4 linked regions of the Homo sapiens genome follow. The protein of the gene in region 1 purifies or fractionates together with the protein of each later gene. This does not show direct contact. Each region holds a gene or a part of one and is shown in the gene's direction. Other genes may lie near its edges.

Evidence for each region.
Region 2: the proteins of GPM6A (region 1) and FITM2 purify together in Homo sapiens (affinity purification with mass spectrometry; 4 studies listed by BioGRID and IntAct, with this or other methods). This does not show direct contact.
Region 3: the proteins of GPM6A (region 1) and ERMP1 purify together in Homo sapiens (affinity purification with mass spectrometry; 3 studies listed by BioGRID and IntAct, with this or other methods). This does not show direct contact.
Region 4: the proteins of GPM6A (region 1) and MGAT5 purify together in Homo sapiens (affinity purification with mass spectrometry; 4 studies listed by BioGRID and IntAct, with this or other methods). This does not show direct contact.

What each region holds. Positions count from the first base shown.
Region 1 is NC_000004.12:175,808,789-175,817,203, reverse strand, and holds the start of GPM6A (neuronal membrane glycoprotein M6-a), read left to right. Parts: upstream 1-4,939; 5' UTR 4,940-4,976; coding exon 4,977-5,013; intron 5,014-5,014; exon of another isoform or gene 5,015-5,344; intron 5,345-8,415. UniProt on the Homo sapiens protein: Involved in neuronal differentiation, including differentiation and migration of neuronal stem cells. Plays a role in neuronal plasticity and is involved in neurite and filopodia outgrowth, filopodia motility and probably synapse formation.
Region 2 is NC_000020.11:44,307,583-44,315,797, reverse strand, and holds the start of FITM2 (acyl-coenzyme A diphosphatase FITM2), read left to right. Parts: upstream 1-4,595; 5' UTR 4,596-4,649; coding exon 4,650-4,822; intron 4,823-8,215. UniProt on the Homo sapiens protein: Fatty acyl-coenzyme A (CoA) diphosphatase that hydrolyzes fatty acyl-CoA to yield acyl-4'-phosphopantetheine and adenosine 3',5'-bisphosphate.
Region 3 is NC_000009.12:5,808,473-5,816,481, reverse strand, and holds part of ERMP1 (endoplasmic reticulum metallopeptidase 1), read left to right. Parts: intron 1-3,446; coding exon 3,447-3,593; intron 3,594-4,264; coding exon 4,265-4,357; intron 4,358-5,158; coding exon 5,159-5,371; intron 5,372-6,250; coding exon 6,251-6,471; intron 6,472-8,009. UniProt on the Homo sapiens protein: Within the ovary, required for the organization of somatic cells and oocytes into discrete follicular structures.
Region 4 is NC_000002.12:134,249,979-134,257,071, forward strand, and holds the start of MGAT5 (alpha-1,6-mannosylglycoprotein 6-beta-N-acetylglucosaminyltransferase A), read left to right. Parts: upstream 1-4,093; 5' UTR 4,094-4,425; coding exon 4,426-4,666; intron 4,667-7,093. UniProt on the Homo sapiens protein: Catalyzes the addition of N-acetylglucosamine (GlcNAc) in beta 1-6 linkage to the alpha-linked mannose of biantennary N-linked oligosaccharides.

The sequences.
Region 1 (8,415 bases):
CATTGCAGTGTTTGTGGTGGTTTTGACTTTCTTTAAGAAAATGTTGGCCGCGGGGCGGTGGCTCACGCCCGTAATCCCAGCACTTTGGGAGGCCGAGGCGGGCGGATCACGAAGTCAGGAGATCGAGACCATCCTGGCTACCACGGTGAAACCCCATCTCTACTACAAATACAAAAAAAATTAGCCGGGCGTGGTGGCGGGGTGTAGTCCCAGCTCCTCGGGAGGCTGAGGCAGGAGAATGGCGTGAACCCGGGAGGCGGAGCTTGCAGTGAGCCGAGACCGCGCCGCTGCACTCCAGCCTGGGCTTTGAGCGAGACTCCGTCTCAAAAAAAAAATAAAAATAAAAAAAAGAAAAGAAAATGTTATGAAAGTCAGTTTCTGACTTGGAGCTTAAAGCAGCAGACAAAGGGGTCCTTTTTCTCTGTCAAAATATAAGAAGATCCCAACTAAGACATTTCATTCTAGAGATAATGTTAATTCTGTGTCTGAAACATTTGACGTAGAATAAAAGGCAGTTTCTAAACCGTGTTCCTGCCTGTTAGTCCTATGCACTGGGCTAGGTTTTCATGATCTTCTTTTCCACATCTCCTCTCTGTTCTCTGACCCAGGGACTACGAACATTTTTCCCCCTCACTTTTTATAGTTAATGCGATATTTGGAACCACAACTTCTTTAATCTGTTAACTCTCCTTACTTGTCTATATTATGAACATTGTATCACAAAGATGACTGCATTACATAATAGAGGAATATGTCGATATTTACTTATTGTATATAATAATGTGTTTATCCATAAAGACAAGATGAAGTGTTAAAGGAAGCTCCAAATTAAGATTAAGAAAAATGAAAGAGAATTATAATGGTTTTGGATTGAGTGAGCTCACATAAGAAAAAAGTAATATACATTATAAACATTTCTTAGACAGTATTTGAAAGGGAAATCTGACTTGATAAAAATATAATCATATTTTTAACCACCTAGTTAACTTATATTTGTTTTATTTTATTTTTTAGAGGCAGGGTCCTACCCTGTGGCCCAGGCTGCAGTGCGGTGATGTGAGCATAGCTCACTGCAGCCTCAACCTCCCGGGCTCCCGTGATTCCCCTGCCTCAGCCTCCCCAGTAGCTGGGACTATAGGTGTGCACCACCATGGTTGGATAATTTGTTTTTTTAAAGTGTCTGTAATGGCCAGGTGTGGTGGCTCACGCCTGTAATCCCAGCACTTTGGGAGGCCGAGGTAGGCGGATCACCTGAGGTTGGGAGTTCGAGACCAGCCTGACCAACATGGAGAAACCCCGTCTCTGCTAAAAATACAAAATTAACTGGGCATGGTGACACATGCCTGTAATCCTCGATACTTGGGAGGCTGAGGCAGGAGAATCGCTTGAATCCGGGAGGCAGAGGTTCTAGTGAGCTGAGATCATGCCATTGCACTCCAGCCTGGTCAACAAGAGCAAAACTCCATCTCAAAAAAAAAAAAAAAAGAAAAGAAAAAGAGTAGAAAATATTTGTAGTGATGAGGACTGTCTATGTTGCCTAGGCTGGTCTCAAACTCCTGGCCTCAAAATGTGTTTTGATTACAGGCATGAGCCACTGCCTACAGCCCATATATTTTAAATAAATGACTAAGAGTAGAATGGGGCAAATACAATACGATACAATGGAAAGAGTATTAGATGAGGCATTTCAGTCCCCATAAGGACACATCATTGCTAGTTATTAAGCTTTATATAGTATATTTTATAATTAATAAAGCAAATCTACTATAATGTGAAACGATTTTCTTTTCTAACTAGTTTAAGATACTGGAGGTTCAAAATATTTTTACTTCCAATGAGATCCAAATTTTAAAAAATAATCTTAAAACCACCATTAGCAACAACAACTTGGCTGGGCTTGGTGGCTCACGCCTGTAATCCCAGCACTCTGGGAGGCCGAGGTGGGTGGATCACCTGAGGTCAGGAATTTGACACCAGCCTGGCCAACATGGTGAAACCAACCCGGTCTCCACTAAAAATACAAAAACTAACTGGGTGTGGTGGTGCATGCCTGAAATCCCAGCTACTCGGGAGGCTGAGGCAGGAGAATTGCTCAAACCCTGGAGGCAGAAGTTGCAGTGAGCTGAGATCATGCCACTGCACTCTGGCCTGGGCAAAAGAACGAGACTCCATCTCAAAAAAAAAAGAGAAAATCATCAACAACTCAACTGCCATCAAACAGGAGGAAGGGGAAAGGAGGAGTGCGTTTTTAATGGGCACAGAGTTTCAGTTTGTGGAGATGAAAAAGTCCTGGAGATAGCTGGTGGCCATGGTTACAGAATGATGTGAATGTACCTAATGCCACTGAACTACAGATTTAAAAATGATCAAAATGGCAAATTTTTCTTTTATATTTTACCCCAATAAATACTGAAAGCCTACTGACAGGTGATTGCTGTGAGGAGGCTATGTATGTGTATGCATCTCTCTTAATTCATTTGACGAGTCCATTTGGACTGGCTCTGAGGACTTTTTTGTATATTTTAAAAATTGGTACAAGTTGATGTTGACTTATGTTGGTAACAATTGTCACATGAAAAAGCCTGTTTTAGACAAAAAGTGAATGGTTATATGAGTGTATTCTGCTGCAAAATTTCCAGAAGAAAAAGAAATCATGAATATTTTTAAAATTTCCTTTCCCTCTCATTTCCCTCTTTTGCTTTATATGTGTGGTGAAAAAGAAAGCTATGAACTGAGGCTGATTTCTGAAGATGCTGAAGATACTCATAAAGGAACAGAGTAGGAAGGAAAATTAGCTTCTAAGATCAGAACATTAGGCAAGAAATCAACAGACATGGGTTCTAAGACTTACTTGGTGATTTATTAGCCCAGTCTCTAGGTGTCCCTGAGCATCCGTGTTTTTTGTTTTTTGTTTTCATCATAAAGTGGGGAAAATTATGCTTTTCCCATTTGACTTACAACGGGTTAATGTATGTAATCATGTTTTATAGATTGTAAAGTGTTCTAAAAATTTAAGGTGACATTATTGTATCTACTGGCACTACAATAAACAATTGCTTTCACTAATGATTTCCATGGTATAAAACGAATGAAGGATCTAAATGAGGAGCGTTGCTCCGTTCTGTGTTGATTATATGCCAGGTTATGTCAGCCTAGGGATGAGTTGAAGCAGAGAGGCTGCTACAATTTGGCTTTTTGATTTCCCTTATGGTTTCTCTCTCTCAATCTGTGCACTGAGCAAGCAGCTCTCTCAAAAACCCTTGAATACACATTGATATATATTCCAAAGAGATAGGTTTTGAGTTATTTGAACTCCAGTTATTTTTGGACAAAATTCATTTGAAAAGAGAAAATAATAACAAATGATTATACAAGTAAGAGGACTAAACATTCATTTATGAGAAATAAAGTGGAATGCAGTAATTGTGTTTCCTCTAAATAGCTGCTTTTGTAATATTTAGAGGGTGATGTGCAGCATGCTACTGGCCTGCTTTAAAGAATGCATGTGAAATACAAGCTATAATGCAAGAAACGTATGCTATGGATAATGAGGATGTGAGCTATTTTTCATTAAAGGCAGAGAGTTACAGTTATGTCTGTGTGTGTGTCCTTGTGTGTGTGTGTGCCTCTCCGTGTGTGTGCTTGTGTGTGTCTTTCTGTCCCTCTGTGTGTGTTTCTGTCCCTGTGTGTGTGTGTGCTGGCTGATTTGGAGATGAAGACAGAGGCAAGGATCCTTTCTTTCTACTCTAGGAAAGGTTTATGCTCCTTGAAAGAGATACTGTTTATTTTCTTGCTATACCTTTTGTGAAGTATTGAGACTCTTGGACTGTGCCCTGTCACTCAGTAGGCTGAAGTACAAATGCTAATTATCGCCAGACTGCAGCATTGTGATTTGCATTCCAAATCAGCTTGCAGATTCCCATTATAAATTGCTATCCTCTTGTTTCTTATCTAAAATTTGTTCCTCCCTTACATCACTCTTCTCATTCCCTAACACTGACCTTTAAAGAAATTCCCTTTCAAGAGATTCTCATTGGAAACCAGCAGCTTTCGTGGGCTATAATCATAACAATAAATAACAAAGACATCAATAGGGTTTTTCCTTCCAGTGGTTTTCTCCCTTTTACTTAAGAGTCATATGGCACTAAGTAAAATAATTACTTAAAACATGTATCTCTCAGGCTTAGAGCTTTATACTCACTCCTTTGACAGCCACGCTTCTATTTCTTTTTAAATCTCAAAGGTGTGGGATTACAAGTCCTGTCTTAGTAATAAACTTTTGCAGATAAACCCTGAGATGGTATAACTGCATCCTTTCTTGGCACCTTAAATCAAATTAACTAAATACTTAGTGAGGAGAGAAAAGGAAAACACAGTTTTTTTGCAACGTATCTGACTGGGTGAGAAGCCACTGCTGCAGCATAAAGAACCGACGGGAATCTGGGCTTTCCCACTCTGGAATGAAGGGGGGAATTACGGGTTGGTGGTCGGCTTCATGTTAGGAGGACACCCCTCCATCTGTTCACAGCTCAGCCTGTTTCCAATTTAAAGCCCAGATTTCAATACAAACCTCAATTTCTTTTCCCCATTTTAAATGCAAAGCAAGACTTGTGAATCATAGTGTCTCTGCTCCTGGGATTCAGACCAAATTTCCCCCCAAAATTCTCAGGCTATTTGTTTGAATACCTGCTTACAGTGGTACACAATGGGCAGCTTTGAGAAGAAAAATTGATAATCTTCACGGAAGAGTAATTTGAATGAAATTACACTTGACAGCCTGTCTCCAAGCAAACAAGAGGAACGAGGGAGCCTGAGCTAAGCTCTGAGGACTTGCCCAAGCCACTGCTGTTGGAGCTTCCCAGGAAAAAAAAAAAAAAAAAAAAAAAAAAAAAAAAAAAAAAACCCCCAGTTTTTCCAACATCTAATTGAGCTTTTGATTAATTCCGTGTACCAGATTCTACTGAAGAAAGGTAGCCATGGAAGAGAATATGGAAGAGGGACAGACACAAAAAGGTACTGTGCTAAAAGCGTTTATTTGTAACTAAGTAATTATTTTGCAGTTTCCTTGTTTGCTTTAGACACTTGCCAGTAAGGCTAATGAATGTTTCTCTCTTGGAAGGCATTTTGTTCCTTCCTCTCCTTTAGTCTGTTCCTCACTTGCAGTAATGTCTGGCACGAATGTTGTCATTATTTGCAAATCTTTCAGATATAAGTACCGAAATGCAGAGTCGAGTATTAGTGAGAAGAGCATTGCGGTATTGTAGTGAACTATTCCTTAGACCAGTCTTTGTTAACCTTCATTTATTTCGTGATTTCACACTTGCCGAGCTGGGTCAAGGGATCCCTAGTGTGAGCCACAAATACAATATTTGGAGTTAGTTAAAAATTTGGTGATGGAACCATTATCCATATCTTTGCATGGACATCTGATAGAACAAAGACCAAGACCATTAATTATCTTTTGATTGGTGCACCTTTTTAAAACAATCTTTAAAAAATAAAAACTAAAAACGAGGATGCAATATAGGTTTAAGCAGATGGAGCAAAAGTTCATAAATTTTCAGGGTGTATGGAAGCGTTAAGATTTTCCTTTCTATATAGTTGACTGTAATCAACTTCTGAGTAATAATGTTAAAGGAAATTTTTTTATGTGTTTTTAAAGCTTGTCTAGGTATATCTGGCTGTATGAGTTAAAGTGAAATTTCCATTTTTGAAGGTTGAAATGGTCAAATATTGGTAATTTGGAATGATTCAATCAACTCGAGAATTGTTTTAACGTGTCAAATGGTAGCTTCAGAGGGAGCTAGCTTTCACCCCAGATAGGCAGCGTTTCTCTCGTCTGCTGTCGGGCTTATGTAATGTCAGAGAAAATGGTCTCATTTTCTTAGTACTGAAGCAGTAACACAGGTAATACTACATAAAGGTAATATTCAAGAGTAGTGTTGAAAAAGATTCAGCTGTCAAAGTTAATTTCAAATGTATATAAAGGCACTTATCGTAAAAAACTGTATTTTATGTGATAAAATATATAGGGTGGAAGCACAGTATAGTTACCATATTTTTAGCCATTTAGCTATGCTGGGTTTCTTCTCTTAATGTACACACACATACTTTGAGGCATATATGGTGCATACACACACACACACACACGTAATAAAGGACCATCGATATTAAATACATGAAGGTTTTATATAAGCAAGAGATAATAGATAAGTTGATTTCCCAATTTTAGTCCTTAGTACCCTTATTCATGATAATCTGTAATAGAAACACAAAAATCTACATTAATAGCATGTGATCTATTTTTAAATTAAAAAACCTCAGCTCCCTTTATTATATGCACAAATAGCCCAAGTTTTCATCAGTGATTGTAAATGGGACATTTTAATGGTAATTTCTGTTCTTACAAGACATCTCAGTGGACTATTTTAACTTAGAATAAATTACCTTATGACAACATCTTTTTTGTAATACCTAATAATGATACTTATTGGCCGATCAATTTGCTTAAGGAAAGATAAACAGCATTTTAAATAGAGGAATGATATTCATTACACTAAATAAAACCTTGAGTTAAATCATGGATTGTGGTAACAGGTTGAATGTGTCTGAGCAAGCCTTGGTAGATGCGGGAACCAAGAAAAATGATGTAATTAGTTGTGATGTTTTTTTCTCAGGTAACACTGAAAAGCTTTCTTTTATGGGGGTGGAGGTGGCTATGCCGTGAGGGGAAGATTTCTGTCACAGTGGGTTTTTCCTCATTAATATATGCACCAGCAGCAGTGGTGGAAAGCAGTTTTAAATCAGAAAAAACGTTTAGTGGTCTATCAGTTTGTAAATGTATATGAATACAATATTTATGATTTAGGTTTTTTTCTTAATTGAGAAAAGAAGATGTAATTTTCTTCACTCTTGATCTTCTGTTCCTCTCAATTACGCCTATGACACCTTTTCTATATAAGTTTGTTGTTAGAAAGTTACATTTGAATCGAAATGCTCTGTCGATATGTGCGTGGGTTGTAACTGTGAAATTACTGGAGGAGCAATTTGACAAGCAGACAAAATCGTTACAGATTTTTCAAGAGTTTAGGTGGAGAGACTTAATGATCTGTCTAAAGAAAAGCAGCATTTTGTGTTAGTTCTTATCCTGTTTTTCTTAAACTGCATAGGATTTTCTTAAACAATAATTCAAATAGCACAGAGTTTTCTTCCATTTGCAAGAAGTAAGTGGCTTTTCAGTCTTTTCTTAAAATTTAGACCTTGTCTTTCCTGTTACATGTCACCAAGACTTAAAATTCACATCAGTGTTTACTCATATGACCTTGCAAATTCAACTAGAAGGTAAAATTCAGTGGATTCATTAATTAATTGCAATTTGCTATGTTCGAAAATATATATACTTGGTGTTTAAGCATTTAAAAAGATCATCCGTCTTAAGAAATATATTTTTCTTCATAGTGAGAGCCCACTCCCCTCTCAAGCTTTAAAAGACAATTGAGAATAGTCCTAACTTTTATCCTAATTTAAGCATATGTGTTCAGTCAGAGAGAGAGGATAATTTAACAGTATGGGTGACTTCACCCACCAGCCATTGTGTTCAATGAGCCCATGCCTGATGTGAAACTGAAATGGGGATCATTAATCTGTTGCTCCAGCAATTTCTGACACCCTCCCCAAAAGTGAGTATCTCATTATGCTGAGGGGAATCTAGTATTTTAAGAAACATATTTTTTGGTAAAACATGGCCTCTAAATGAAAGCCACTTACTTCATCTTGTGTGCAGCCAAAACAATGATATTCTAGTATAGAAAAAAAAAAAGGAAAAAAAGAAAAGAGTGTTTTGAATTTGGTCTTTACTATGGCCATAATAAACCTAGCATCATCTGTCACCAAAATCAAGAGCCATTGTCACAAAATCATGGCAACAAGGACCCCAGTTACTACAGAGGGGTTGAGCAAAGTGAATAAAGATATTTTGATGAAGATTTAACAGGTAGGCGTTTATGACTTGTAGCCATGCAACTGTTTCTAGAACATTTTGCCAAATCTTACGAGAAAATACGTAAATGATTTTTGGGTTTCTAATTAGGAGTGAATTGGTGAATACACATTCGGGTGGCCAGACAAGTGGGTGACCATCTCTTCATGGACAGCCCTAATGAAGGCCTTGCTGAATTAGGAGGGCTTTACAGAGGAAGGCTGATGAATCAATAAGTAAAGGGAGCAACAAAACTGTATAGAGATAAAAAGAAAACAGCAAGGGACAGAAAGAGCCAGCAGGTTGGAGTCTTCATAAATTGGCTGAACTGTTCCAAACAGCCAAAACCCTGATGGCTTTAATTTCTGAACATGAACATTTTATGAAACAGGTCTCAAAATTACATGGAGTATACCAGAAAGTTTTGATCAGCACAA
Region 2 (8,215 bases), on another chromosome or scaffold:
TACTTAGGAGGCTGAGGCAGGAGAATCGCTTGAACCTGGGAGGTGGAGGTTGCGGTGAGCCGAGATCGTGCCACTGCGCTCCAGCCTGGGAGACAAAGCAAGACTCTGTCTCAAAAAAATAAAAAATAAAATAAAATAAAGGTTTACTATTGGCTCTCTAGGGAAACATGTATAAGCATATACCTACCTATGTTTATTATAAATGTTTCTTAATGTGTAGCACATTATTTACAAATAATAAAATATATGGCCAGGCTTGGTGGCTTACACCTGTAATCCCAGCACTTTAGGAGGTTGAGATGTGCAGATTGCTTGAGCCCAGGAGTTTGAGACCAGCCTGGGCAACATGGCAAAACCACATCTGTACCAAAAAATGTACAAAAATTAGCTAGAGGTGATGGCTGATTTAGTCCGCCTGTAGTCCCAGCTACTCGGGATGCTGAGGTGGGAGGATCACTTGAGCCCAGGAGATTAAGGCTGCAGTGAGCCATAATCACACCACTGCACTCCAGCCTGGGCAACAGAGTGAGAACTTGTCTTAAAAAAAAAAAAAAGAAAGAAAGAAAAGAAATATATAAATACTCTTTGTTATAACTATAGCTAATTGATTCTCACAGAATGCTTTTATTGATTTTTGTTGGATTCTTGTAACCATAGGCAACCTGTGGTTTCAATTCAACCATGTTTTGACAAATGGAGTTGACTCTCAATGTAGACAAACCAAATAAATCCCTGATTTGTAGCACCTGCCAATTTCCATAGTGTAAATACTCCCCCTGTGGCTGATTTCAAGCTCTCAATGTGACATCACTGAATAGATTTGGGAAGAGTTGTGCAGGAGCTTACCATACAGGAACAATAGATGTAAGTTACCCCAAGAGCATAGATAATAATAAAACATAGTAAAATAATTAGTAACTAATGAGTTTTGAGTATTTTCAGTTTGTTTTTTTATATATGTAACTTTTTTTTTTTTTGAGAGAGGATTTTGCTCTGTTACTCAGGCTGGAGAGCAGTGGCATGATCACAGCTTACTGCAGCCTCAGTCTCCTGGGCTCAAGCCATCCTCCCACCTCAGCCTCCTGAGTAGCTGGGACTGCAGGCACACACCACCATGTTTGGCTAATTTTCGTATTTTTTGTAGAGATGGGATCTCCCTATGTTACCCAGGCTGGTCTGGAACTCCTGGGCTTAAGCGATTCACCTGTCTTGGCCTCCCAAAGTGCTGGGATTACAGGGGTGAGCCAACAGGCCCAGGCCCTATAATGCAGTTCTTAATATGGCTGTGTTTGACAATCACCCCGCAAAAGTTCTGAAAATTTAATCATCAGCTCTTGCAGGCTGGTATGAGTTGACTACAGCACATCATTTCACTCACAACATAAATATGTATTTCCCAATACTGATTCAATTTTTTTTTAAATACAAAAACTTCTCTAGAGACCTGCAACAATTTTTTCAGGTTGAGTTTAACCCAGTCTTCAAAAATCTCCAGCCATGGTGGCCAAGCGTGGTGGCTCATGCCTGTAATCCCAGCACTTTGGATGCTGAGGCAGGAGGATTGCTTGAGGCCAGGAGTTCAAGGCTACAGTGAGCTATGATCGCACCACTGCCCTCCAGCCTGGGAGTGCAGAGCAAGATCCTGTCTCAAAAAAAAAAAAAAAAAGAAAAAGAAAAAAAGAAAAGAGAAAATGGAAGGAAGGAAGGAAGGGAGGGAGGGAAAGAAAACTCTCCAGGAATGAAACTGCAGTTTCAAAGGAAACAAACCCATTTCCTTTCTCAAAAATACAAATCCTGAACCTTTCAGAAGGTACTCTTTGGACAGTCCCTCGGGGTGATATTTAGTGTTTATATTCACCGAGCAGTCTTTCCCTCCTTCTTGGGTTGGGGGACGTATCTGGATTTTCTTTGGAGGAACCACACAGCTAATAAGGAGGAGAACCGGCACTCAAACCCAGCATCCCTGCTCTTAATTCTTATGCTGTTTGCTAAGGAAAGCCACAGTAATTGAGCACCTGACAAACTCAAGGAGACAGAGATGGTATCAGATACTATTTACAAGCTGCCTTCATAAATAACCCCTTTCTGGCTATGTAGTTTTTATTCCCAATCATGAAATGCCAAATTGGTATAATTATCACTATATTTTATTTTTTAAACCAAGCATTCTGAAGGCCTGGAAGCATCTTGCTATATAAGAACTCTAATCAGATAAATGCAATTTACAGATATGAAGGTCATCTTAAGATGGTTTTAAGGAATTATTATTTTCATTAATTTGTTGATTCTCTGCATGAGACTATAAACATTAGTCCATTGTAGGCATAAATCAGGCTAACATTTCCCAGTGTGGTAGCTGTCCTTGGTATAGAGACACAAAATTATTTTGGGCAGCTAGTGATGATGAATATTTCGATAGAAATTTTTCTTTGGGCCGGGTGTGGTGGCTCACGCCTGTAATCCCAGCACTTTGAGAGGCAGAGGCAGGAAGATCACTTGAGGCTAGGAGTTGGAGACCAGCCTGGTCAACATGGCGAAACCCTGTCTAAAAATACAAAAAAATTAGCCAGGTGTGGTGGCATGTGCCTGTAGTCCCAGCTGCTTGGGAGGGTGAGGCAGGAGACTACCTTGAACCCGGGAGGCAGAGGTTACAGTGAGCCAAGATCAAAATAGCTTGGCCTCCCAAAGTGCTGGGATTACAGGCGTGAGCCACCACGTCTGGCCTAAAATGCCCATCTCTTGATATGACTATATATGTGTGTATTGGCTGGGTTTGTGGCTTTTGGAATAAACTTCTGTTGTTTAAAACAAGTTTAGGGTTGGGCACGGTGGCTCGCACCTGTAATCCTAGCACTTTGGGAGGCCGAGGCAGGAGGATCACTGGAGCCCAGGCGTTCGAGATCAACCTGGGCAACATAGTGAGACCCCATCTCTATTTAAAACTAAAGAAAAAAAAAGGAATAAAAATAAACTGAGTTTATAGTAATTTATTAGAGCTGCCACAGGAAACTAACATTGGGGTAAGGGAATGAGTCCAAGGTTGGGAACTGAAATAGACACCCAGCCCTAACCAGGGGTGAGGGGTTAGTTTTGTGATAAACTGAGCAACTGAGTCTCCAACAACTTCATGTGATCTCCCCATTAACCCCCAGCATCCAGCATTTTCATCCAACAGGCATAGATAGCTGTTTTGTGTTTCTTTGTGTGCTTTTTAAGACGGTCTCGCTCCGTGGCCCAGGCTGGAGTGCAATGGGACCATCACAGCTCACTGCAACCTCAAATTCCTGGGCTCAAGCAATCCTCCCACCTCAGCCTCCTGAGTAGCTGGGACCACAGGCCTGAGCCACCAAGTCAGCTAGTTTTTAAAATTATTTCTTATAGATACTGAGTCTCACTGTGTTGCCCAGGTGAAAATAAATTTAGAAATTTAAACTTTAAATGTAATAATTGCACCAGGTGAGATGGCTCACTCCTGTAATCTCAGCACTTTGGGAGGTGAAGGCTGGCAGATCACTTGAGGTTAAGATTTGGAGAGGTCAGATCACTTGAGGACAGGAGTTGGTCAGCCTGGCCGACATGGTGAAACCCCATCTCTACTAAAAATACAAAAATTAGCTGGGTGTGGTGGTGCGTGCCTGTAATCCCAGCTACTCGGGAGGCTGAGGCAGGAGAATCGCTTGAACCTGGGAGGCAGAGGCCTGCAGTGAGCTGAGATCGCGCCACTGCATTCCAGCCTGGGCAACAGAGCGAGACTATGTCTCTAAATAAATTAATTATATTAATTAATTAATTTAATAACTGCAGAGCGTGGTGGCTCACACTTGTAATTGCAGCATTTTAGGAAGCCGAGGCAGGAGGATCGCTTGAGCCCAGGAGTTTGAGACCAGCCTCGACAACGAAGCAAAACCCTGTCTCTACAGAAATAAAAATAAAAAAAATTAGCCAGGTGTGGTGGTGCCCGCCTGTGGTCCCAGCTACTCGGGAGGCTGAGGTGGGAGTATTGCTTGAGACCAGAAATTTGAGGTTGCGGTGAGCTGCGACGGTGCCATTGCACTCCAGCCTGGGCGACAGAGAGGGACCCCCCCCCAACTAACTAATAAATAAATAAATACAATAATTATTCCTAAGGAAACTTCATCTCATGTCCCTCTACGTGTGCCAACGTAATGAACCCCTGAGCTCATAAACTAGCTTTTGGGAAAGGTTGATCTCCTCTTGTCTCTCGCATTTTACAGATGAGAAAACTAAGACTCAGATGGCAGAGGTGTCTCCGAGGCTCCAAGAAAGATCAAATGATGCTGTGACTACTGCTCCAATTCTCCAGGGCTACATTTATCCTCTTCCAGCCTCCAGCAAATACTTTCACAAGCGCTTTTTCCCAGACCAGAGCAAGACGCGGAGGCTCGGGGAGAGGAGGCGGCCAGGAGAGCGCAGAGGAGACGAGCGAGTTCGGGGACCGTCACGCGCCAGAGGCAGCAGCGGCCACGAGGGGGAGCGCGCGGGCTCCGGAGCCCAAGCACGCCTCAAGCTGTGGGACTCGCGGGCAGTGCGCATGCGCTCGAAGGGAGGTGGAGGCGCAGGTCCGGGCGAAGGGCGATACGGTGGCCGAGAGGGCACGGAGAGGAGGACGGTGGCTGACGAGATCCGGCATGGAGCATCTGGAGCGCTGCGAGTGGTTGTTGCGGGGGACGCTGGTGCGGGCGGCCGTGCGGCGCTACCTGCCCTGGGCCCTGGTGGCCTCCATGCTGGCGGGCTCCCTCCTCAAGGAGTTGTCCCCGTTGCCCGAGAGCTACCTCAGCAACAAGCGCAACGTCCTCAACGTGTGAGTGCACCCCGGTCCTCCGCTGTCCCCGCCCGAGCCGGCCCGCTGTCGCCTCGCCCAGAGAAGCCGGTGCTAGCTGCCGTGGTGGACGAGTCATTGGAGGGGAGGTCCTCCTCCTAGCCGTGACAGCAGCATCTGCACGCGTGTCACGCCTGGGAGGCCCCGGGGTAGCTGGTGTCACTAGCAGTTAGTGTTTGCAGACCCACTTTGGGCAGCATGAGCTTGACTGGGCAGGTGGTGACAAGCGGGGTCGTGTGTGTCTCTGTATATGTAGGGGTGTGGAATGGGGTGGGGATGAACCAGCCCCTGTCACCACTCCCCCGCCTCCCCTTGGAGTTAGGAGCTGACCCCTGCCCTGTTTGGGAGATGCCATCTCACCTCTGTCCTGCCTGCCTGTGGCAGACCCCGCGCAGACCCCACCCTGCGTCAGATCAGATCCCTCCAGCGCGTGACAGAATCCCTTTACGACCTGTGGAAGAGCCTCGCCCCAGCCTGTGACAGGCAGAGCCCCCGCCTGTGAGATACTCACAGAGGGCTGGAACCCCCTAGTCTGTGCCCTTTCCCCTGGATCTCCTTGGATCATCTCAGCCACTCAGAATGCATGGCAGTGGCCCAGAAAAGCAATCCCAGCTGGGCGCTTTGAGACATCTCCTTAACTCCACCCATCCACTCCTTTGCTTGCTTACTTGCTTTTTTCAAAACTCCCGGTTAGTAAGTTTATTGCACAAAAACTCTGTTGCGGTCATAAAGGGAAACTCTGAAAGATAAAACTGCTCCCTTGATGTGAGCCTAAGTGTTTTCCAGAATAAGTGTCTCTGGCGTGTCCTGAAAGTCAGCCCAACTTTGGTTATCTGCTTAAAACCCTGGTTCCTTTCACAGGCAGCTTCCTCAAATGCCTGACGGGTCTTGGCTCTGGCAAGATCTTCCTTATCAGTCCCAGTGAAGATTTTAGTGACAGGCCTGGGGGTGGTGCCTGAGAATCCATTGGAACCTAGAAAAAAGTCCTTCTGTCCTTGGTCCACCTTCCTTCCTCACCCACCCTGAGAGGCTGGGCTAAGAATAGATCATGAGAGTGGTAGTGGCCCCAAGTCTCTGTCCTGGGTTTAGGTCAGCCACCTTTCGTGAACGCTGGGGAGGCGGACAAGGCAGCTGCTGCTTCCTCTGGCCTAGGTGAGCTGGGAGCCAAGTGGCCTGGCTGACAACACACCCCTGTTGTTTGAAGGTAGTCATGGATCCTGGAGTTTTGTTCCAAGCCTCTGTGCTGATTAATGAGAGGGAACTAGTGAATCCTGGGATATAGAAGGGACCTTAAAAATCATTTGGTCCTCTCAGCTCTGTTTGATAGCTGAAGAAACTGAGGCCTGGAAAGGTAGGAGGTATAGTAAGTTAAGTAAGAGTGAAGATTTGAACCCGTAAGAGTGAAGATTTGAACCCCGGTCTTTTGGCTTAAAGTAAGACCTTGTTGCAAGACTGTTTCTGCCGTTAGGAAAGAACCAGGCTGGGCGCAGTGGCTCACACCTGTAATCCAGGCACTTTGGGAGGCCAAGGCAGGTGGATCACTTGAGGTCAGGAGTTCAAGACCAGCCTGGCCAACGTGGTGAAACCCCATCTCTACTAAAAATACAAAAATTAGCCTGGCGTGGTGGTGCGTGCCTGTAATTCCAACTACTGAGGAGGCTGAGGCAAGAGAATCACTTGAACCTGGGAGGCGGAGGTTGCAGTGAGCTGAGATCATGCCACTGCATTCCAGCCTGGATGGCAGAGTGAGACTTTGTCTCAAAATAAATAAATAAATAAAAATAAAAATACAAAAATTAGCCGAGTGTGGTGGTAGGTGCCTGTAATCCCAGCTACTCCGGAGGCTGAGGCAGGAGAATTGCTTGAACCCGGGAGGCGGAGGTTGCAGTGAGCCGAGATCGTGCCACTGCACTCCTGGGTAATAAGAGTGAAAACTCTGTCTCAAAAAAAAAAAAATCATTTGGTCCCCCCAGCTCTGTTTAATAGCTGAAGAAACTGAGGGCTGGAGAGGTAGGAGGTATAATAAGTTAAGTCAGAGTCAAGAGTTGAACCCGTGTCTTTGGCTTAAAGTAAAGCTCATTGTTGTAAGACTGTTTCTGCCATTAGGAAAGAACCAGGCCAGGTGCATGGCTCATATCTATAATCCCAGCACTTTGGGAGGCTGAGGCAGGATAATTGCTTGAGGCCTGGAGTTCAAGACCAGTGGGGGCAACATAGCAAGGCCCCATCTCCACAAAAATAATAATTAAAAAAAATTAGCCAGGCACATTGGTACACACCTGTAATCCCAGCTATTTGTGAGGCTGAGGCAGGAGGATTGCTTGAGCCCAGGAGTTTGAGGCTGCAGTGAGGTGTGATTGTGCCACTGCACGCAAGCCTGGGGGACAGAGTGAGATCCTGTCTCAGAAAAATAAAAATAAAAAATAAAAAACCACATATGGTATGGGAGAAACAGCATGAGTCTGGGGGCTATCCAAACCGTGGTTTAATCTGTTCATGCTGGTTGTGTGAGTGTGACCCTGGCAAGGTACTGAACTTTTCTGAGCCTTAGATTTCTTGTCTATAAAATGGAACAATGGCACCTTCCTCCCAGGGTAAATGTGAGTGCTCTATGGGAAAGTGAATGTGTGTGAAAGCTCCTGGCATTTGGTAAATGCTCAGTTATTATTATTTATTTATATTATTTTCCTAAGTAAATAACATAGTGCTTAAGACGACAGATCCTGGATTTGAATCCTGGCTCCTCCGCTTCTGGCCTCCACTTTTGGTGTGGCACTTCCCTCTGTCTCAGTTTTCTTCTCTGTTAAAGGCAGATATTAACAGTACTTAACTCATAGAGTTGTTTTTTTTCGTTTGTTTTGTTTTGTTTTTGAGATGGAGTCTCGCTCTATCGCCCAGGCTGGAGTGCAGTGGCACAATCTCGGCTCACTGCAAGCTCCGCCTCCCGGGTTCATGCCATTCTCCTGCCTCAGCCTCCCGAGTAGTTGGGACTACAGGCGCCCGCCACCACGCCTGGCTAATTTTTTGTATTTTTGGTAGAGACAGGGTTTCACCATGTTAGCCAGGATGGTCTCGATCTCCTGACCTCGTGATCTGCCCACCTCGGCCTCCCAAACTGCTGGGATTACAGGCGTGAGCCACCGCGCCCGGCCAACTCATAGAGTTGTTAATGGATTACCTGGTTAATACATTTAAAGTACTTACACAGGGGTGGGGTAGGGGAGGAGGGGAGGGCTGGGCACAGTGGCTCATGCCTGTAATCCCAGGACTTTGGGAGGCCAAGGTGGCCGGAGCATTTGAGGCCAGGAGTTCGAGACCAGCCTGGCCAACATGGTAAAACCCCCTCTCTACTAAAAATACAAAAATTAGCCAGGC
Region 3 (8,009 bases), on another chromosome or scaffold:
AGATAATACTTTCCAACCAAGTTGATCAACAGGATGGTATAATATTTGAAAATCAATCTGTGTAATTCACTACATTATCAGAATAAAGAGAAAAATCATGTCAATTGATAATCTCAGGATGATCATCTCAGATAAACAGGGACATGCTCTTCTGTAACAGAACATTGATCACACTCAAGAAATATTAATATTAAACTATAATAATGCATATTCAGATTTTTCCAGTTGTTCCATTAATGTCCTAACCATTTAAAAAAAAATCTGGGTTCCTACCCAGGATCAAATATAGCATTTAATTATAAAGTTGAAAACTTAATTATTGTAAGGTGAAAATCTTTTTAACTCTGTCTCATGGAAGAGGGTGGATTGCCTTGCCTGCCTAGGCATTTTTTTTAACCTCTCTTCTCAAATACAACTCCCTCCCATCTAAGAGGAACTATTATCCTAAGTTTTAAGATAATTAATGATAGTTTGGCTTTACCTGTTTTTCAGTATGGTTTTCATTGTATTTTTTAGCATAAATTTCTTAATATCAAATAGTAATATTTTAATAATAGTATTTTAATATGATAAGATCTCGTAATGTACGTATTTCCCCATCATCATAGTTCTTTTTCCTTTTGTATTTGTGTCCTCAGTGCATCACATCAGGATGCATGTGGTATCTGTTTGTCTCATTATTAATGATACTACATTTTCATCGTTTGATTAAGGTATTTATTTGCCAGGTTTTTCTACTATTTCTTTCTTTGTACAAGTTACTGATTTCCCCTTAGTGATAGATACTTTAGGTAAATATCCTGTTTGTCATAAAACTTTGATCCTAGTTTTAGCAATCATTGATGACTCTTGTCCCCAAGCATTTTTATTACAATGTTTACCAAATGCTACTGCTGAGTTTCTGGTTCCATCATTCTGCCTGTAGGTCATAGTTGGAATTCTGCAAGAAGGAAGGCTTTCCATTTTCCTTTTTTTTTTTTTTTTTTTGTTATTTCAGTACTTTATGTATTTTAATTTTACTCTATATATTCTGTTACTATTGTTTATTTTGTTGCATGAATTGTCCCAGTTTAGGCCAGTGGTGTCTATTTCAAATCAGTGCCTGAGCCCCTTTGACATGTCTTTTTGATCACTTTCTTACTTTCTGGCACAGATGTTTCAACTTACCTTGTACTTTGCTAGTCCCAGACCTGGAATCAGCCATTTCTCTAAGGAGGCTTGGTTTCTTTTGGTGGGGAATAGTATTCAAAAGTAAATGGTGCCAGATACAGTTTTTCTTTATATTTATCTTGTTTGGGGTTTGTAGACCTTTTTGAATTCGTGGCTTGAATTCTATGAGTTTTGGAAGATTCTTGGCCATTAAGTCTTTAAACATTTATCTTCTCCATTCTATCTTCTGTTCTTTTGGGACTCCAATTACTCACATTTGTGTATTTTCCAACCTTTTTTTCTTTTTATGCTTTAATTTTAATCCTTTCTTCTGCTGTATTAAACTTTGTGTTAAGCCCATTTATTAAAATTCGCAACATCAGTTATGTTTTTTCATTCTAGGATTTCCATTTGTAGGACTCTTTTAAATAGATTATACTTGTCTGGTGAAATTACTGATATCTGTGTTTTTTAAAACATATTAATCATAATTATTTTAGAATCTGTGTCTGGTAACTCCAGTATCTGGATTACTTGTATGTCTGTTTCTATAGGGTCCCTCTGCTTTTTTGGGTCATTTTTAATTTTTAATTTTTATTTTTTCAGATGGAGTCTCACTCTGTCACCCAGGCTGGAGTGCAGTGGCACAATCTTGGCTCAGTGCAGCCTTCACCTCACAGGTCTAAGCAATTCTCCTGCCTCAGCCTCCTGAGCAGCTGGGATTACCATGCCCTGCTTATTTTTGTATTTTTAGTAGAGGTGGGGTTTTGCCATGTTGGCCAGGCTGGTCTTAAATGCCTGACCTCAGGTGCTCTGCCCACCTCGGCCTCCTAAAGTGCTGGGATTATATGCGTGAGCCACTGCACCCAGCCTTGGTCATTTTTTAAAATGTAGGAAAGCAATTTTATAATCTGTGAAGTTAAAAAAACAATATTCTTAGATTCCCTGACATTCAGTTACTTGGTCTGTTTACATCAGTCAATATGTTGCTAAGTTTTGTGGTAACAACCCCAAAATCTTGGTGGTTTACAACAGCAAAGGCTTATTTCTTGCTCGTGTTGCATTTTGGTTTCTGAATAACTGCAGTTATGGTCCACGGTTATTATGTTCCATGTGTCTTATTCATTCTGGGATCCAGGCTGAAGGAGAAGCCCCTATAAGGGATGTATTGATCTCACAAATCAAAGTTAAGGATAAGTATGAATGATGTTAATGCCTTTGAAAACTCTGCCCAGTTGAGGGTCATGTCATTCCTCCTCACAGTCTGTTGGCTAGAGCAAGTCATGTAGCCACGCCTGCAGTTAATAGGTACAGAAGAGTATGTACTCATTCCCCAGGCAGGCATTACAAGGTATGTGGCAAGAGTAGGAATGTATAATCCTTTTTCAGCGAGGGAAGAGTGAATAATTATACAATTATACATATAATTATATAATTATAATTATATAAATATACGTATAATTATATAATTATATAAATTATAAAACAATGTATCCCACTATCCTACAGGAAAAACTCCCATTTGAAAAAGCTGTAGATGTATGAGATACAGATGGAAAATTATTAATAATGATAAATTATAAAAAGTAACAAGGAACTTTATGGCATATTCAGTGAAATGTTAAGCAGTTATCAAAATGATTATTATAATACAGATTGAGCATCCCTAATCTGAAAATTTGAAATCCATAATGCTCCACAATTCACAACTTTTTGAGCACTGACATGATGCTCAAAAATGTTCATTGGAGCATTTCTGATTTTGGATTTTAGGATTAGGGATGCTTACTAGTATAATGCAGATATTCCAAAATCCGAAAAAGTAAAAAATCCAAAATACTTCTGATCCCAAGCATTTCAGATAAGGTATACCCAATTTGTATCTAGCAACATAGGAAAATGCATTTAATATAATGTTAAGTGAAAACAAATGTACAAAGTATATATATCTTGAGTACAGCTATATACACACAATTCTACATTAGTAAGAAAATTAAAGATATACAATTGATAATAGGCATTTTAGGATGATAGATTTATGAATGATCTTTCATTTTCAGACAGACTTTTGTATTGCTGTTATTTTATACTTTATTTTCACAAAAGGTTTTTATTCTAAAAGTCAAACACATATATCAGAGAAACATTGGAAACTACAGAAAAAGGGATGAAAAGGTACATATTGGACCCGTCTCCCAAAACCACCACTTTTACTGTTTTCTATGTGTTGAAAAACATTAGTATGTTAAAAAAAATTGCCGGAATACCTTCTATTGTGTTGTCATCTTTCATTTTAGGTCCTGAAAATCCTTGGTTGGTTCAAGCTTATGTTTCAGCAGCTAAACACCCTTTTGCTTCTGTGGTGGCTCAGGAGGTTTTTCAGAGTGGAATCATTCCTTCAGATACTGACTTTCGTATCTACAGGGATTTTGGGAACATTCCAGGTATATTGTCAATGGTTACGGCCTACTGTGCAGCATTTATTTATCAAAAGCAAATTTTAAATCTTGAAAGTATGTGAGTAAACAGCATTTTCTGAGATCAAATTCTTTATGTGAGAAATATACATTGACTCACTAAAACAGAGTTTGTTTCCTTTTTTAAACTCCATACTAATTTAAATGCTGGCCTCCTCTAAAATATGTCATCTTTCCCCATAGAAGAACAGGGGTGAACTGTTTAGCACCTCATTCCCAAAAGATGGTAATAGATCCTTCAGGGGTCTTTCGTTGTTGTCTTGGTTTGCCAACTCCCTTGGCAACTTGTATGTACAACTTATTTGAAGTTAAAATTTGGCTCTGGCCTGGCAAGAATGTAGGTGGCAAAATTTTCATGACCTCCCAAACTCAATATTCCTATCCTTGCTGTGTGACTTGTAATGCCTACCTGTGGAGTAATATACTTCTTCAATCATTATGTATCGAATTATGTACCAAAGCTATAGACTGTGTAAGAATTTGGAAGAGAATTTATATCAGTCGTTTGTAAATGTGACAAAGCAATCGTGCCACTGCTTTGACATTTTGTCTTTTAGGAATTTATTAAAGAAATAGGTCGAAAGCAAGGTTGATCTTTAAAGCAAAATGACTTTTTTTTTTCTATATATATGTTTTAGGAATAGACTTAGCTTTTATTGAGAATGGATACATTTATCACACCAAGTATGACACAGCGGACAGAATTCTAACAGATTCCATTCAGAGAGCAGGTTGGTATTCCAATTTAGACTTTTGATATACACTAAGATGGAATGTTAGGGATGATACATAAACTTGTAAATATTCTGTGGCCTGTGCATTAGAGAGGCAGTATGCAATGTGAATGAGCTAGGGCTTTGGAGTTGGAGAGATGAGATCTTGAATTTTAGTCTTGTAGTCTAGTGTAGCAATTAAGGTCAGGAATATTCATTGTGAGGAAATGAAAAAGGAGTTGGCCCAGGGTTGGGAGGATTGCTGAGTGGTAAGAATGTAGCTCTGTTAGTCTCCCATGATGTTTTCCTGTGGAACTCTGCTAGCTCTCCTCAATTTTTAACACATGTGTGACAGCTTGTTCAGCATCTCTGAGCTTCGTGAAAGGCCTTTGTCTCTTGGTTCACCACTAAATTTCTGATATCTAGAAGAGTGTCTAGTACAGTTAATATATATTATTAAATGAATGGGTACCAAGAAACAGCCATTGGATTTGTCAACAATGAAGGTACAATTGATCACAGAGAATAGTTCTAATAGAAGGGAAAAGATACAGGCCAGTTGGCTGAGCGTCTGAGTGGAGAGGAAATGGAGAAAGGCAGGGGATGGACCTTATTTGAGAAATTTAGTAAAAAAAGTGAGGGAGAGCAGTAGGATGGTAGAAAGCGATTTCTGTTCACATTCTTTCTAACCATTTCTTCATTCAAACAGTATATGGTTTATTTCTGCTTTAAATAGTGGTATGTGTAAATCACAAATAGTTTATTCAGCCTTTTTATCTTTTTCCTTTTCTTTCTTTTTTTTTTTGTTTTTACTAATAGGTGACAACATTTTAGCAGTTCTTAAGCATCTAGCTACATCTGATATGCTGGCTGCTGCTTCTAAGTATCGACATGGAAACATGGTCTTCTTTGATGTGCTGGGCCTGTTTGTCATTGCCTACCCCTCTCGTATTGGCTCAATCATAAACTACATGGTGGTAATGGGTGTTGTTTTGTACCTGGGCAAAAAATTTTTGCAGCCCAAACATAAGAGTAAGTATTTTCCTCTAAAACTACAAATACTGGCATTGCTGTAGAATGTGCTTGAAGTTTTTCAGTCAGTTTGTTTATATCTTCCCAGAAAGCTAAAAATCTTAAGACAATGTTTGCTTTATATTGTAAGAAATTTTTAAATATTAAATTAATATGCTTATTTTACTTTTAGTCTTGGTGAAGCAGTCAATTTTTATATATTTAGGCACTCCATAAAAGTACCACATAGAAACTATTGAAAAATGGTTTGTACAGATTGACTTCTAATGAAAAGTCCCATTAAAAAGTCCACACTACAGACCAATAGCTAGTATGGACCAGTGTCACGAAGTATGAATGAACTGCTTGTGGTTAAACTGTTTCTTTTATTTGAAATATTTCTGCTTGAAATGTTTCAGAGTCTAAGTTGTTGTGTGCTGTTACGAGATAAAATATTTAGCAGCAGTTTAAATAATTCTTTATCAACGCTTATTTTCCCCACACTCCTTATCTTCTTATGTTACCTTATTTTAACAACATTTTATATGGAACTTTGCCTTCCATTCTTGCTAATATTTTGATACACAAAGCATACCAAAAGTGAAGAAGATTAAGACTATCCTCTTCCTTCATAAGGAATGTACCTGAACTATTCCTAGAAGATTTATCTTTTTGAGTGTTTAGTATCTAGAGACTCTTAATAAATGTTACCTGAATATTATTATTTGATACCTCCCTTGTTCTTGTGTTTGGCCAATCTCAACACTAGGACATTTTCATACTTTTCAAGTACAGTGGGGAGTTTTTTGTTTTAATGTTTGCCCATTTAGCTCTACTGACTGGTTATATAACTGATTTGATGAAGATGGTGATTTCAACTTTTTGTTTTCTCTTCATTAGCTGGTAACTACAAGAAGGACTTCTTGTGTGGACTTGGCATCACTTTGATCAGCTGGTTCACTAGCCTTGTTACCGTTCTCATTATAGCAGTGTTCATCTCTCTTATTGGACAGTCTCTCTCATGGTATAACCACTTCTATGTCTCCGTTTGTCTGTATGGAACTGCAACTGTAGCCAAAATAATACTTATACATACTCTTGCGAAAAGATTTTATTACATGGTAAGTGTTTGGTATATTTGTTGATTTCTTTCTGTTGCCTCCAGGGACTGAAGATGAACTTAAGTGTGATTCATTGTATTTGGCCTTTTGAGTGCTAAAAAATTGTTCAGCATGGTTATGGAAAACGCACCTACACTGTGTTAATTTTCTGAAAGATTTCTTATTCTGAGGGTAATGTCACAAAATTCAAATGAGGTTATAAAGCCGGGCTGTTAACAGTGTTAGGGTGGTGGTGACTGGAAGGCTTGTTAGCACAGCCTTCTACTGAATTTGCTGCAGTGTTTGTAAATATGTCCTGGGCTCACCCACTTATTTATGTTATTTGAATATCTGTTCTCCATTGGAGTGTAAGCTCCTTGAGGATAGGGATTGTTTTATTTATTTCTGTATCCTCTGTGCTTAGGTAGTGTCTGACACACAGCATTAACACACAGCAAGTATTTGTTGCCTAAAAGAATGTTGTACTTAAAGTTTTTTCAGTTTTTCCCTCACTGTTTTTTCTTTTTAACTGTATATTGTTGATTCAGATTCTGCATGCATGTATGTCATTGGAGTTAAAAGACACATTGCTAAGGAAAACAGAGGGAAGGGAAATAGGGTTCCAAATGATTTATACTGAGAATATTGTTATATTATTATGGTTTCAAATGCATAAATTTGTTTGGCAAAAATAAAATTAGAAATTAGGGCTGGCCGGGCGCGGTGGCTCACGCCTGTAATCCCAGCACTTTGGGAGGCTGAGGTGGGCGGATCACAAGGTCAGGAGATCGAGACCATCCTGGCTAACACGGTGAAACCCCGTCTCTACTAAAAATACAAAAAATTAGCCGGGCGAGGTGGCGGCGCCTGTAGTCCCAGCTGCTCGGGAGGCTGAGGCAGGAGAATGGCGTGAACCCGGGAGGCGGAGCCTGCAGTGAGCTGAGATTGAGCCACTGCACTCCAGCTGGGGCGACAGCGAGATTCTGTCTCAAAAAAAAGAAATTAGGGCTATGGGCTGGGTGCTGTGGCTCATGCCTGTAATCCCAACACTTTGGGAGGCTGGGCAGGCGGATCGCTTTAGCCTGGGCAACATGGTGAAACCCTGTCTCCACAAAAAATACAAAAAATTAGCCAGGCATGGTGGTGTGTGCCTGTAGTCCCAGCTACCTGGGTGGCTGAGGTAGGAGGATTACCTGAGCCCATGAGATCAAGGCTGCAGTGAGCTGTGATTGTACCACTGCACTCCAGCCTAGGGGACAGAGTGAGACCCTATCTCAAACAAACAAACAAACAAAAATTTAAAAAGCTGTAAAATAATAGGTCTAAAAATGAATTACAGTGAAGAGTCATGGTTTCAGATTGTTTATGTGAATTAAAGAGGAAGATCTTTCTTAGCTCCATGTAAGCCTACTGTTTTCAATTTATCCTGATAAAGATTAGAATGAGACATGGATGATTTTAACCCAACATCCTTCCACAAGTATGTCTTTGGTATCTGAACTTTGGTCTGAGTTTCAGTTAATGTTGGGATGTGTTCTGTGGAACCTTCCATGTTAGCA
Region 4 (7,093 bases), on another chromosome or scaffold:
TGATTTGCATTTCCTCTAATGACTAATGATGTTGAGCATCTTTTCATGTGCTTTTTTTTTCTTTCTTTCAGGAGAATTGACACATTTCTTTGCCAGAGATCTCTAACCATCTTTATAAAGGTTGAAGATGATTTTGTTGTGTTGAGGCGTCAGTGGGAAGGAACAAGGTGATTGCTACTCTTTTAGAAAGTAGGAGGATAGAGGGGATGCATATTGAGGTGGCTAATTCTGCAAACAGACTTGGTGCAAACTTTTTTCTGGAAGTGAATTGATGAAGTCACGGCCATGAGCTGACATTACTCTGGTTGGCAACAAGGTCTTCTGAGATCCACTGTATAGTCCCACTGTGCCCATTGGATGACTTAGCTAGAGGACACAGCCGTTAGAAGGTCTGGAGGTAGGCATCTTCTTAGCTCCAGCAACAACTTCTTGATCACTGTTAGTCTAGGGCTTCCTCATTAATTGTCTGGTCATTCCTGATGATCTTCATTGTCATTTTGTGGCACCAAGACTATGAGGATGGCTGTTCATTTTCCTCCTCATTGTCCACCTGTTACTGTGAGAGATAGGGGTGTCTCCTGAATAATGCTTTTGAAAAGTCTTAAGTTCTGTCATCTTAATAGGAATTGTAGAGATGCATTCTGTGATTCTCTGTGTGTGCTGTGTGTATACTGATATTGTTTCTATTATTTCAAGCTCTAAGTACCACTGGAGAAGAGAAGTTTCCTGGCACTTCTATAGTCACTTAAAATCTGGGCCCTCACTAATCAGAACTGTACTCTGAACTCCGCATAGCTAGGGATTTTCACTTCAAATTTGCATGTCTCTGAACTGGGATAATTTTACCTAGGCTGAGATTTTTTGGCCATCTCTTTGCGCCTCTGATACACCATCTGGATGTGTCTGACCTTCTCCAAGGCAAGGGCAGAGAAGAAGCCTTCTACCTTCTAAGGAAGCTATTGTTCAGTTCCTAGCCCTTGATCTTTCCTTTGTTTTAACTCCATAGCTTGAGCAGCCTATTCAGTAGGGTTAATTGAGGAAGTAGAGTGGGGTTTCCTGTCTGAAAGTGGACAGCTAATTCCTACCAGTGATTCGGGCTCTTTACTAAAATAGTGAAAGAAAAATCACCTTTTTTGATGTAGCACCTCATTGGCTTGCTCTAGGAAAATTCCTTCAGCCCTGGTTCAAAATTAAGTAATGAGTAATGAGTATGGGTTATCAAAAAAAAAAAAAGCCAATTCCCTTGGAGCTAGGTGCAGCACCTAGTTCGTAATGTGGCTGTCAGAGTGTAATTCTGATGGGGTGGAAACTCCATCTTGTTCACTGTTCAGTCACCAGGGCCTGATGGCCGCTCATGCTCAATATAGACTTGGCGCGGAGCGGAGTGGAGGAAGGAAAGAGGGCAGGTGCTAGTTGGCTGGCCTGCAGTTAGAAGGGCTGAATAAAGTGCTGTAGTGCCCTAGGCGACATATTCATTTAGCAGATACTTTATTGTGCCACTGTGGTCAGTGCCTTTCTCTGAGAAGGTGTGTGTGTGGGGAGGGGCTCCCTAAAGGATGTCATAGAGTCCCACATAGAAACTTTGAACAATCCAAGGTAGACAGGTGTTTTTAACTCATAATACTCCTTTATTCCCTGTTTTAAAAATTTTTTTAAATTTGATACAATAATTATACATAATAATGGAGTACCATGTGAGATTCAATCCACATATACATTGTGAAATGATCAAATTAGGATAGTTAGCATGCACATCACCCCCAAATAATTATTACTTTTGTGGTGAGAACACTTAAAATTGTCTCTTTTAGAAATATACGTTATTATTAACCATAGTCACCTTGCTGTGCAATAGAACACCAGAACTTATTCCTCCTAAATGTAACTTTTTACCCATTGACCACTCCCTCCTCATCCCCCTCTCTCCTCCCCACCCCTGGTAACCACTGTTCTGTTATCTCCTATGATAGCAACTTTTTAGCTTCTGCATGTGAGATTGTACGGTAGTTGCCTTTCTGTGCCTGGATTATTTCATTTAGCATAATGTCCTTCGGGTATATCCCTGTTGCTGCAAAAGACAGGATTTCTCTCTCTTTTTCTGGTTGAATAGTATTCCATTGTCAGAGAAGTGTTGTAAGACTAGGAAAGGAACACTGCAGGCTGGAGCCCTGGGGAAAGTGGTCTGAGGCAGGTGGTGGGACTAGAGCTGGGGTCTGGCAAACAGGCTGGGTTTGATTGTCAGCATAATAGAGAGCACTCATGTGCCAGCTGGGTGGGAGGAGCAGCCGAGTGAAGAAGGGGAAGCCTCTCAGGAAGCATGTGCAGGGTTTATGGTAATGAGCAGACCAGCAGGTACGTAGTGGGAGAGGGGTGTGATGGGGCAGAGGAACTTACGTTATGATAGTACAAGACAGAGGTTGAGCCTCATTTTAATAGGCATTGTGGTGGGTGTTGAATAGTGATGGAATGTATGGGTCTGGAATCAGGCTGCCTGGTCAAGGGCTCTGAAACATGAGTGTGCATCAGAATCACCTCGAGGCTTGTTAAAGGATAGGCTGTGGACCACATCTCCTCAGTTGCTGATTCAGTGGGTGTGGGTGGGGCCTGAGAATTCACATTTCTCACTGGTGATGCTGCTGTTACTGAGTTTGGGACCACATTTGGAGAACCACTGGTCTAGAATTGAGAGGTTGGCAAACCTTCTCTGTTAAGAGGTAGATAGTAAATATTTTAGGCCTTCTGGGCTACAAAGAGTATCTGTTACATATTTTTTATTGCTTTTCATGACCCATTAAGCATATATATATCATTCTCTGCCATATACAAACAGGCTGTTGGGGGAGTGAGGATGATGTAGGGAAGGTGGGGCATGGTTTAATAACCCCTGGGCCATGCCTAGATGATCAGTCCTCTGCCACATAGCTGGCTGACCTTTGCCAAGTTAATCACCTTTTACCTTTATTTTCTCATGTTTCTAATAAAACAGAGACGATAATATTCATACTTCTTACCATATAGAACTTCTGAGGATTCAGTGAGCAAAGCCACAAAAGATGGTATGTCACAATATCTGGGATATAGCTAGAATTTATAATTTATTTTTACTCTGTTGATAGGCAATGGGAAAACAGTAAGAGGCAGACCAACAGTGATCCAGGGCTCTGAAAGCTAATTGCTTCAAGATCCTGCTACCATTTTCTTTTGGGCCGCTTGCAAAGAAGAATCCTTTGACTGAAGCATGTATGTACACTCTGAAGTACAGCCTGGGTTAGTCTCTTATAAGGGATCGGATCATTGCTCAGCCTCTCCCTTGAGTGGCACTTAGAAAATGGCGCTATTCGTAAGCTGACTGGTATTGGGCCCAGGACTCTGGCTGAAGGGGTGGGCATGCTGGTAACCATTTGCAACCTATGCTCAGGTCCTACTTGTTGGGAAGCCCTGATTGAGAAGAGTGGCCTGGTCTGTGCTGGCATTAGATAGGATCTGGCTGCATTAATATTGAAACTACTCTGCCTTTTAATGTCTCATTTTGCCTCATGGTGGGAGTGAAAGTGAGAACCACAGAAAATCTGCCTGCCAGGTGTTCCACATTTCTTGTGCTACAGCATGCAAGTGAGCAGTGAGGTGTACCTTTTCCTCATGTAGCTGGGAAAGCAATACCCCTGCTTGTACCTCTGGCATATCTTCTCTGTGCTGGTGCACCTAGAGAGGTTGCCTGGTGGCCCTGAGAGAGCCATCTCATCACTAAACACTGATGGTGAAAGCTGGCCATGCTCAAATAAGATGTAGCAATCTACCTCTTCTTTGTCTAGTTACCCCCAAGGGGGCATCCACTTTCTTGCTCACCTCACCAGTTGCATGTTCTAGTCCTTGCCAGAAGCACATAATAATGACTTTGTAAGCTTAAGTTACAGGCACACAAAAGGGCCTGATGGTGATATGACTCCACCCTCCCCGTTTTTGCTGACATTCCGCCAAATATCCTTCTGTCTCCTCCCCACCTTGCAAAACAAACTTCCTGTTTTGAATTTGGTCCAGGCTGGAACAGCCCCACTACACCTGTTAACACACGCAGACGCACACTTCCCCCTTCATAATTGCTTAGCTTCTTGTTGCCTAGCCAGATTTCCCCTCAGCTTACAGTTCCTGAATCATAAGATATTGAACCAGCAAATTTAAGAGTTGACATTTTACTTAGAGGTATTCAAGTGAAAACATGGCTTCTGGTTTATTTTGCTGTATTGTGCCATGACCACTTGGCTAATTCTTCTCCTCCTTCACAGCAGAATGGAAGTGAGGAAAGGCAACCAGCTGACACAGGAGCCAGAGTGAGACCAGCAGACTCTCACACTCAACCTACACCATGAATTTGTGTCTATCTTCTACGCGTTAAGAGCCAAGGACAGGTGAAGTTGCCAGAGAGCAATGGCTCTCTTCACTCCGTGGAAGTTGTCCTCTCAGAAGCTGGGCTTTTTCCTGGTGACTTTTGGCTTCATTTGGGGTATGATGCTTCTGCACTTTACCATCCAGCAGCGAACTCAGCCTGAAAGCAGCTCCATGCTGCGCGAGCAGATCCTGGACCTCAGCAAAAGGTACATCAAGGCACTGGCAGAAGAAAACAGGAATGTGGTGGATGGGCCATACGCTGGAGTCATGACAGCTTATGGTAAGCACTGTTTCTGGGACCTCTCCATTAAAGTGTGCCTTGGCCTTGAAATGGCCCTAGAAGCTCCCAGATATGGTCTTGTCATGGACTGAATGTCCTTTGCCACTGCCTTCATAAGCAGTGAATTGCACACAGAGAGGCATCTTTAGGAAATTAAAGCAATGCCATTTTGGGGGTTCTGAGCTGGTGTATGCAGACACACTTTCCCCTGGAGTCAGTGGGTTAGTATAGTTAGGGCTCTATTGGTTGTGTTTGCAGCTAGCTCCTTCTCCCTGAACACATTTCAGGAACCATGTGATCTCATGTGGGAGTGAGTTCAGGGAATGCTGAAAAATATTCTCATCTTTCCCTAAACAAAACTTAATTAAGGCTGGTGGGGGTGAGGTGAAGAGGATGGGGAGGAATGTTCTATGGAAGCCAGTAAACTTAGAGCCAATTGTGTTCCTCCCTCCAGCCAATAAATATGACACTGGCACTTGCATGCTGGTGAGTTTTAACCTTTGGCTTCTTGAGGTTATGTTGCTCTTCTTCTTGCCCTTGTCTCTAACTGCCCTCACTTTGAAAGGAATCTTTGTGTACTTGTTGCTTTTTCTTTAAAGAATTTTTTTCAGAATTCTTTTTGAAATCAGAAAGAGTAAAAAAATACACATATGGGATGTAACTTATTTTTCTTTTATGTTTAATATAGAAAAAGTTGGAAGCTGTAGACAAGCAAAAAAAGAAAAAAATTACACATAAGTCTACTACTCCAGGCAATAACCACAATTAACATTTCAGTGTGTATTTTTCTGATACTTTGCATACACACACAAATATATATATACATATATATACATATATACATATATATACACATATATACACATATATATATACACACACATATATATATACATACACATACACACACAAATACTTGGAAAAAAATTGCAAATGGAATTTAGATCATGCTGTGTTTTGCAGAGCAGACTTGGTCTGTAGAAGATGACCTGTTGTTGAGTGACAAGAGTCTGATCATTGAATTGAGGTTTCAGTGGTCTCACTGAAGTGGTCTCCCTGATAGTATAGATGAGATGCAAGAATGGGGTTAGGTGAGGTGGAGAAAGTGGAGTTGTGTTTTGTGACCCACTCAAGGAAGGTGCCCTGAAGTATGCCGATTTCAAATCGTGATTCCCAAAAATGTGCAGCAACAGTTCAGTTCAGTGCAGGTTGAGTTCAGACACAGGAAATCATACTCAGTTATACATGTGCTTCTTTCTTTCCAAAAGGGGAAAAAAACTTGTTTTTAAAAAAGTATGTAAAATTTTATACACACGTATGTGTATGTGTGTGTGTGTATGTGTATATATTAGAAGATGCTTACTTCTGAGGAACATTTTAGAAATTCTTTTCTAGTTCTTACTATGTAAATAATCACACTCTGCATTTAATCTGTTAAAAGTGTCTGTAGGCATTGGCTTTTAATATATCTAAAAAAATGGTACCTTTTTTGAACTGATGGATTTAAAAAATGAGATTCCACTGTGGGAGCTTACACTGAAAAGTAACTAGGTAGTTTTTCCTAGAGTTGCATTTTAAAATTGCTCATTGACTCACATTTGTGTAACATTTCCAGAGTAGTTTAGATAAACCAACAGAAAATAAAGCTGATTGTCACCATTAGTGTTACCAATGTATATGACACAGCAGGTAACACAGGTGCAGTTTTAAAGTTTCTGGTTGTATGCATTTCATGTTACAGCTTTGAAGGGAAAGAGTTACAGCTCAGTGGTAATTTTCTCTTGTTTCTCTCAGTCTGTCAAACCTTTTCCATGGGCAAGAAGAAGCCCCACAAATAGCAAATTTATAGGCTTTAAATTTCTGCAGTTGTTTTGGCTGTTTGTATTTCTTGTGTATTGATGAAAATCTCATAGGGAAGGCTTCCCCACATTTTAAAGGACAATAATTTGGTCTTAGCTTTTCAGCCTCACAGAAATATTATTTTTTAAGTTACAAAAAAATCCCAGAATAGGCTGTTAGAATTTCAGCCACCTTATATGCCTGTAATCATAAGACTTTGCATCTCAAAGAAACTATAGAAATTATTTATTCCAACTTACTTTCGTAGATGAACCTTAGCAAAATAATTTGTCTTTTTCTCAAAAACAACAAAGAAACAATCAAACAGGTCACATCAGCAACTCTAACTGACACTGCTAGTTTTCTCTTTCATCGAATCAACTTTAACGTATCAAAGTGGTTTTGGGAGCTGAGTTTCTGGAATTTTTATTGGACTTGTATGTATGTGCTTGAGGTACTGGGGGGTTATCACATGGTGAGATCCTACTAAGACAGTGTCTCATTTGGTGCTGTTGACTTTTGGTCTAAATAGGTCTTGATTGTGGTAGGATTTCAGCAGCATCTCAGGGGTCTCTACCCACTAGATGC